Linked DNA regions of Homo sapiens. The protein of the gene in region 1 interacts with the protein of each later gene in a pairwise test. Each region holds a gene or a part of one and is shown on either strand. Other genes may lie near its edges. The genes, in order: PCDHB5 and CACNA1C.

The links.
Region 2: the proteins of PCDHB5 (region 1) and CACNA1C interact in binary tests that used the Homo sapiens proteins (3 or more experiments, as listed by UniProt).

What each region holds. Positions count from the first base shown.
Region 1 is NC_000005.10:141,133,761-141,138,099, forward strand, and holds the start of PCDHB5 (protocadherin beta-5 precursor), read left to right. Parts: upstream 1-1,445; 5' UTR 1,446-1,674; coding exon 1,675-4,062; 3' UTR 4,063-4,339. UniProt on the Homo sapiens protein: Potential calcium-dependent cell-adhesion protein. May be involved in the establishment and maintenance of specific neuronal connections in the brain.
Region 2 is NC_000012.12:2,059,460-2,063,276, forward strand, and holds part of CACNA1C (voltage-dependent L-type calcium channel subunit alpha-1C), read left to right. Parts: intron 1-3,817. UniProt on the Homo sapiens protein: Pore-forming, alpha-1C subunit of the voltage-gated calcium channel that gives rise to L-type calcium currents. Mediates influx of calcium ions into the cytoplasm, and thereby triggers calcium release from the sarcoplasm.

The DNA.
Region 1 (4,339 bases):
TGAAAAATGGAATAATTAATCTTTCAAAATACATCATACAAGAATATTTTCATGACCTTGGAGTATGTGAACATTTAAATAGAACACAAAAAAATGCTAATCATACATGAAACTTATTGACAAATCTGACTAAAGGTAAGAAATTTTATTCATCAAAGACACATAATAGACTTGAAATAAAAACCATAGAGTGGGAAAAGATATTTGCAATACATATATCTTAAAAAGGACTTATGCCCAGAATATATGAGAAACTTCTGCAGATCAATAAGCAAACAGGCAAATGCCTCCCCCCAAAAAAGTAAAAAGGTTTGCATAAGCCCTTCACAAGATTGTATCCTAATGGCTGATAAACATGAAAATGTGCTCAAATTGTTTAATCATCAGGGAAAATGCTAACTAAAATTACAATATCATATCACCATACACTAACCAGAGTGGTTTAAAATGGAAAAGATAGCATCAAATGTTGACAAGAATGTGGAGCAACTGGAACTCTCATACTTTGCTGGTATTAGTACGACTACTTGAGAAAACTTTCTCATTATCTGCTAAAGCAAAATATATGTGCACATCTTAATGCATAGCAATCCAACTCCTTTGAATATATTCAACATAAACACATATATGTGGTCACCAAAAGACTAGTACAAGGATGTTTATACCAGTACTACCCCAAAGAGCTTAAACCTGGAAAACAATGTTCATCAACTGGAGAATGAATAAATAAATCATAGTATATTCATACAACAGAATGATATAAAGCAATGAGAATAAAACAAATAAGAACAAGATGCCACAGATCAATTTGCTGAACATAATATTGAGGAGAAGAAGCCAGACACACGAGAGTAACAATCTATAACTCCATTTGTATAAAGTTAAAAAAAAAAAAAGCAAAAAAAACCTATGACAACAGAAGTCAGGACAGTGCTTATCTTTTGGGGAGAGGGTGGTAACCAGACAATAGCAGGTGGGGACTTGGGTTTGGGTAGTATTTTTAATCTAGGTTCTACTTACAGGAGTGTGTTCACTTTGCGAAAATTCATTGAGTTATACACCTATGATTTGTGCCATTTTCTGGGTGTTATTGGTGTTTACTTCAAAGTGAAAGTAATTTTTCTTAAACTTTAAATTTCTATAGATATTCCTGATCACTTATTTAATATAATCAAATAAGAAACACCAAACAAAGTGTATTTGTGTACTCAAGGGTACTTTTATGGAGATTAATATATAATTTTAGTTTTTTTCTCAAAAGTATTTTCTCACTGAAAATTAACTCCACAACATTTATTTAGAACTTTCAGCAACTAAGAGCTGGAGATACCATCGGGAGAGCTTATGTGACAAAAGGGTATGGATACACGTCAGTTAGAATTTAGGATGAAATGGCAAATACTATATGCAATAGTAAATTAGGACGCCTGGTGGCGCTGCAGGCTAAGAGTGTGGATAGTGGGCTCTGCGGATAACTCAGACGCCATTAAGCTGGGGAATCCAAACTCTAAAAGAAGGACGCATTTTAGGTAAGATCTAGTGGCTAGATCTTCAGGGTGGGCTTCGTTCTTGTGGAAATCAGTCAAGAAAGATCGGATTCGCGGTTATTTATGCAAATCATCTGGGTGGATTGTGTACGGAGTTAAACTGCGCCTTCTGGACCGGGTCTGAACAATGGAGACTGCGCTAGCAAAAACGCCACAGAAAAGGCAAGTTATGTTTCTTGCTATATTGTTGCTTTTGTGGGAGGCTGGCTCTGAGGCAGTTAGGTATTCCATACCAGAAGAAACAGAAAGTGGCTATTCTGTGGCCAACCTGGCAAAAGACCTGGGTCTTGGGGTGGGGGAACTGGCCACTCGGGGCGCGCGAATGCATTACAAAGGAAACAAAGAGCTCTTGCAGCTTGATATAAAGACCGGCAATTTGCTTCTATATGAAAAACTAGACCGGGAGGTGATGTGCGGGGCGACAGAACCCTGTATATTGCATTTCCAGCTCTTACTAGAAAATCCAGTGCAGTTTTTTCAAACTGATCTGCAGCTCACAGATATAAATGACCATGCCCCAGAGTTCCCAGAGAAGGAAATGCTCCTAAAAATCCCAGAGAGCACCCAGCCAGGGACTGTGTTTCCCTTAAAAATAGCCCAGGACTTTGACATAGGTAGCAACACTGTTCAGAACTACACAATCAGCCCAAATTCACACTTTCATGTTGCTACGCATAATCGCGGAGATGGCAGAAAATACCCAGAGCTGGTGCTGGACAAAGCGCTGGACCGGGAGGAGCGGCCTGAGCTCAGCTTAACACTCACTGCACTGGACGGTGGGGCTCCGCCCAGGTCCGGGACCACCACAATTCGCATTGTCGTCTTGGATAATAATGACAACGCCCCCGAATTTTTACAATCATTCTATGAGGTACAGGTGCCCGAGAACAGCCCCCTTAACTCCTTAGTTGTCGTTGTCTCCGCTCGAGATTTAGATGCAGGAGCATATGGGAGTGTAGCCTATGCTCTATTCCAAGGCGATGAAGTTACTCAACCATTTGTAATAGACGAGAAAACAGCAGAAATTCGCCTGAAAAGGGCATTGGATTTCGAGGCAACTCCATATTATAACGTGGAAATTGTAGCCACAGATGGTGGGGGCCTTTCAGGAAAATGCACTGTGGCTATAGAAGTGGTGGATGTGAATGACAACGCCCCTGAACTCACCATGTCTACGCTCTCCAGCCCTACCCCAGAAAATGCCCCGGAAACTGTAGTTGCCGTTTTCAGTGTTTCTGATCCAGACTCCGGGGACAACGGTAGGATGATTTGCTCCATCCAGAATGATCTCCCCTTTCTTTTGAAGCCCACATTAAAAAACTTTTACACCCTAGTGACACAGAGAACACTGGACAGAGAGAGCCAAGCCGAGTACAACATCACCATCACTGTCACCGACATGGGGACACCCAGGCTGAAAACCGAGCACAACATAACGGTCCTGGTCTCCGACGTCAATGACAACGCCCCCGCCTTCACCCAAACCTCCTACACCCTGTTCGTCCGAGAGAACAACAGCCCCGCCCTGCACATCGGCAGTGTCAGCGCCACAGACAGAGACTCAGGCACCAACGCCCAGGTCACCTACTCGCTGCTGCCGCCCCAGAACCCACACCTGCGCCTCGCCTCCCTGGTCTCCATCAACGCGGACAACGGCCACCTGTTTGCCCTCAGGTCGCTGGACTACGAGGCCCTGCAGGCGTTCGAGTTCCGCGTGGGAGCCACAGACCGCGGCTCCCCGGCGCTGAGCAGCGAGGCGCTGGTGCGCGTGCTGGTGCTGGACGCCAACGACAACTCGCCCTTCGTGCTGTATCCGCTGCAGAACGGCTCGGCGCCTTGCACCGAGCTGGTGCCCCGGGCGGCCGAGCCGGGCTACCTGGTGACCAAGGTGGTGGCGGTGGACGGTGACTCGGGCCAGAACGCCTGGCTGTCGTACCAGCTGCTCAAGGCCACGGAGCCCGGGCTGTTCAGCATGTGGGCGCACAATGGCGAGGTGCGCACCGCCAGGCTGCTGAGCGAGCGCGACGCGGCCAAGCACAGGCTGGTGGTGCTGGTCAAGGACAATGGCGAGCCTCCGCGCTCGGCCACCGCCACGCTGCACGTGCTCCTGGTGGACGGCTTCTCCCAGCCCTACCTGCCGCTGCCGGAGGCGGCCCCGGCCCAGGCCCAGGCCGACTCGCTCACTGTCTACCTGGTGGTGGCATTGGCCTCGGTGTCGTCGCTCTTCCTCTTTTCGGTGCTCCTGTTCGTGGCAGTGCGGCTGTGCAGGAGGAGCAGGGCGGCCCCGGTCGGTCGCTGCTCGGTGCCCGAGGGCCCCTTTCCAGGGCATCTGGTGGACGTGAGCGGCACCGGGACCCTATCCCAGAGCTACCACTACGAGGTGTGTTTGACCGGAGACTCAGGGGCCGGCGAGTTCAAGTTCCTGAAGCCGATTATTCCTAACCTTTTGCCCCAGGGCGCTGGTGAAGAAATAGGGAAAACTGCTGCCTTCCGGAATAGCTTTGGATTAAATTAGAGATCTCGTGATGACGCGTTGTTTTCTGCCATTTATCCCAAACTTTTTCAGATCTAGAATTCGAGAGTGTCATGGACAAAAATTTCACCTTGAGATTGAGCTTTTATTTCCCTTTTTAATGGATTTGTCTGTTGAACTTCATGCTGTCCAAGTGTTGAAAAGTCAATTTTATTTCATTGCATTTATTTACATAGTGTCATTCCAAATCCATGCATGCTGTTGATTTTCCTGAGATTTTTTTCTCTTCTTGTTGGTATTTGTTGTGATAAACCACCTT
Region 2 (3,817 bases), on another chromosome or scaffold:
TGGCTGAAGCAGAGGGTGAGGAAAGCGGGGGTTAACTGGCAAGAAACCCAAACCTCTCAGCCCCTCCCCTCCCCAAAACCCCACAGAACAGTTCTCTGCAAAACACCTTCACTTTAAAATGGGCTTCTTGTGCTATACCCTGTGTGTATAGGGGGCAAGGGGCTAGGCTCTGGTTCGTTAAAGGGTTTGTCAAACATAGAATAAATGTAATGTCTCTTTGGGAATTTACTTTCTAGGATCAGGACATTTTATGGGTAAAGGAACCTTAGAGACAATCCTCATTTCCAGTTGAGAAAACAGAGGCCCCTAAAGGTTCATGGAGGCAGGGATGTAACTAAATACAAGGTCTTCAGTCTCTTCATCCTCCTGCCTGTACCACACTTGGTGCTGGCCCCCTGAGAGAGCATTGTTAGTGCTTCTGGCTAAATTTTGCTTGGTAGATCTTTCAACCTCTCTATTCTTCCTCCCCCTGCCTCCACCTTTGTACTGCCTTAAAATAATTTCTGCGATGTTAGATTTAGGAATGGAGTTGGAAGGGTGGGGTGGGGGAAATCTATCATTGGAAAGGTTTAAAAACACTTTCTTAGGCTACAGAGTAGAAGTTCATACATGTCCACAAGAAACTCCTGCAAAATTCAGATCACGATTTTGTCTGCAAACAGATCTGCCTCTAAGCCTTTTTTATTTGCTCACTTCCTCTCGGCCCCAATCTAGGCTTGTTTCAGCCCCTTTGCGAGAGTGGGATGGGGATGGGAAGCCGGGCTGTGCTGTGGGACTTCCCTGGTGAGCTGCTGGGATTCTTCATGGACCAGCTGGCATTACCAGTAGCTGGGGTATAGACACACAGATCAGCCCCAGGGTAGAGACTGTGAGACAGGCTGCCACAGACTCCACCTGAGCTGGGCGACCAAGGGCGTCTTTCTGCTCCCATGTCAGGGTTGGTCTCCTAGGACCCCCGGCCTACTCCCAGGAGACATTCCCAGCAGTGGTGGTAGACTCAGCCCATGGAAGAGAATCACTAGGACCTGCCTCTGACATTCCCATCTTCCTTGAAGTGTTCATTGGCTGACTTGTTTCATACTCTTTCAAGTCATCTCTGAGAAACTGGAAGGCCTCTGAGGCTGACTCGGTCTAGCTTGAAGACGGAGGCATGAGCCAGGCTCATGCTTAGAGATGTGGCTTTTGAGTTCCCTGGAGGAAGCCATCATTTCAGAACATAGTGTTGTGATAATTTCATGAAATATTCAAGCTGCCAATTTGCCAACAGGGGTTTCTTTTAATACACTCGGCTACACTTGGTGTTGCCCACTTGAACCTAGCTAAAAGGAAAATAAAATAATCTTGTCTCCTGTCCTTTAGAGAACCAAGCCAAAATCTAGACAGTGAATGAATGTTCTTCTCCATATTGCCTGTGGGCAGAAATGTTGACTTGAGTACTCAATTAAGCTCTATTTACTTTATAACCATTGTGTCATGTACAGTCATTTATATTCCTTTCTTTCTTCCAAAATAATCTACGTTGGGCTAAAACCTTTCAAAGACATTAACAAAAGTAACAAAGTAAATAGCTAAAGAATAAATAAGGCTGTAGGCTAGAGAAATGACTTGGGTCTTGGGTCACATTCTTTGACTTCATCTCTTTCTCTGAGAGTTCAGAAGGAATCAAATCCCTTTTTTTTTTTTTGTCTGTAAAGTGGAGATAATAATCCTTAGCCAATTCACTTCGCAGGGCAGCTGTGAGGATCCAAATAGGAGAATGAGTGTATATCGCTGTTCAAACATCAGCTACTCTTATTCTCCCCATCAGCGAGCAGAGCACCAGAGTTTGGAAAAGCAACGCCATGAAGTAACATTCACAGCATTTCAAACAACTTTGGAGGTGTTGTGGGAGGGCTGACATTATTCAATATTTTAAAGGTGAAAATGTAAAACAAAGAGAAACCAGAGTCTGAGGTGGTCTGGCTGATACCAGAATAATCAGGGAGGAAGTGAACCATTGGTTGAGATGGGCCTGGTATTTTGCCCTCCAGAGAGTCTAGGAGCCTGTGGCCAGTAGGCTCCCAGGACGGTGGAGCCATGTGCACTGCTGGCACTGCTGCTGTTTCCAAGCTGAGGGTGAGGACATGGGGATGCAGGGTATCCGACGCCTGGCAGCTGTCCACCTGCCATGCTGCTGTCCCCTCACTGCCACCACACATGGCTGCCTGGCTTCGGCCTCAAGTCCAAAGCCACGCTGGCCTGAAGTCCTTTCATGGCCTGAAAATAGGGCCATTGAGGGCAGGAAGAACACCACCTGGGCAACCAATGTCTCCTCACTTTTGAACGTGAATTCCCCAAACCTAAACCCAACTTCCCAGTACAGGAGGACGGGCTGGAAAATAAAACTTTGCTTCAAAAGTAAACTTTGGGTTTGGAAAATAAACTTATTTATTTTTCATAGCCAAAATGTTGCAGGTTTGGAGATAGAGGGGACAGTTCTGTGTAGCTCCCTAAGACACTGATCAAAATAGGAAAGAGCTTTAACATTATAGTCTAAGTGACAGGATTAGTTTTAGTTTCCCAAAGCAAAAATAATCCCATCATCAAAAAGTATGCTGGGAAACTTTCGCACTTTCGCATTTGTTTGCACCTTGTTCTACCCCCAGCTCTGGTCCTGTGATCTGTGGAGCCATATATGTTTTAATTTTTCTCTAAAGAAAAAAAGCTGTATTGAGGTATAACATCTACCTTGTTATAATTTTAAAATAGAGCAAGAGTAATAGCCACCATTTATTGAATGCCTAGCATGTGTTAGACAATGTTCTTGGTGCTTCATGTGCTTAATATGTTTTATCCTTACAGTAATCCTACCACGTGGGTTTTAATTATATTTTTTAGATAAGGAAACTGAGGACCAAAGTCTTAAGCAATGTGGCCACAGCCACCCAGACAGTGTTGGGGCTGGGAATTAAATTCAGGTCTGTCGGACTTTCAAAACATTTGCTCTTTCTGTTACTTCTCCCCATGGAGAACAGTAGAAAGAGAAACCCACTATCTCTCTATCCTGGGAAAATGACCTTGTCCTTGCCTTCTGGAACCTGGCTTAGATTTGCCTTGTGGAAGCTCAGAGCTGGAATCCTTGTTCTTACTTGATGGCTGCATGTTGTCGTGGTACCCCGCCTCCCCTCCTGGTCCCGTCCTCTGGCTTTCTTTCCCCTTATTCCCAGGGTTTCTGCCAGGGCCCTCCTTGCTTCTTCACATCTCCTCACAGGCCTTCACAGACCACCTAGGTCAGTACACCTTGTCTCCCGGGGGACCCATTTGTGGCATGGCCTTGCTTCACCACCCATTCTTGGAATATTTCCTCAGTCACTCCCTCCAGGAAAATAGACACTCTCCATTCTCAAACGAGATTCCCGTGAGTCCCGGGGACCATCCCTGTAAGCTGAGCTCTCCAGACTTCATGCATTATTTATTTATTTATTTTGAAATAGCAGCTTTGTTGAGGTATAATTCGCATACCGTAAAATTTACCCTTTTGATGTGTATGATTCAGTGGTCTACCTACTTCCCCAATATTTTCATCACCCGCAAAAAATACCCTTTACCCATTGGTAGTCACTTTTCATTCCCCTCTCTCTCCAGCCCTTGGCAACCATGAATTTACTTTTGTCTCTATGGATTTTCATGTGTTATTGACAGCAATAATAATTCCTTTTTTTTTTTTTTCCTGAGGTGTAGTCTCGCTCTGTCACCAGGCTGGAGTGCAGTGGTACGATCTCGTCTCACTGCAACCTCCGACTCCCTGGTTCAAGCGATTCTCCTGCCTCAGTCTCCT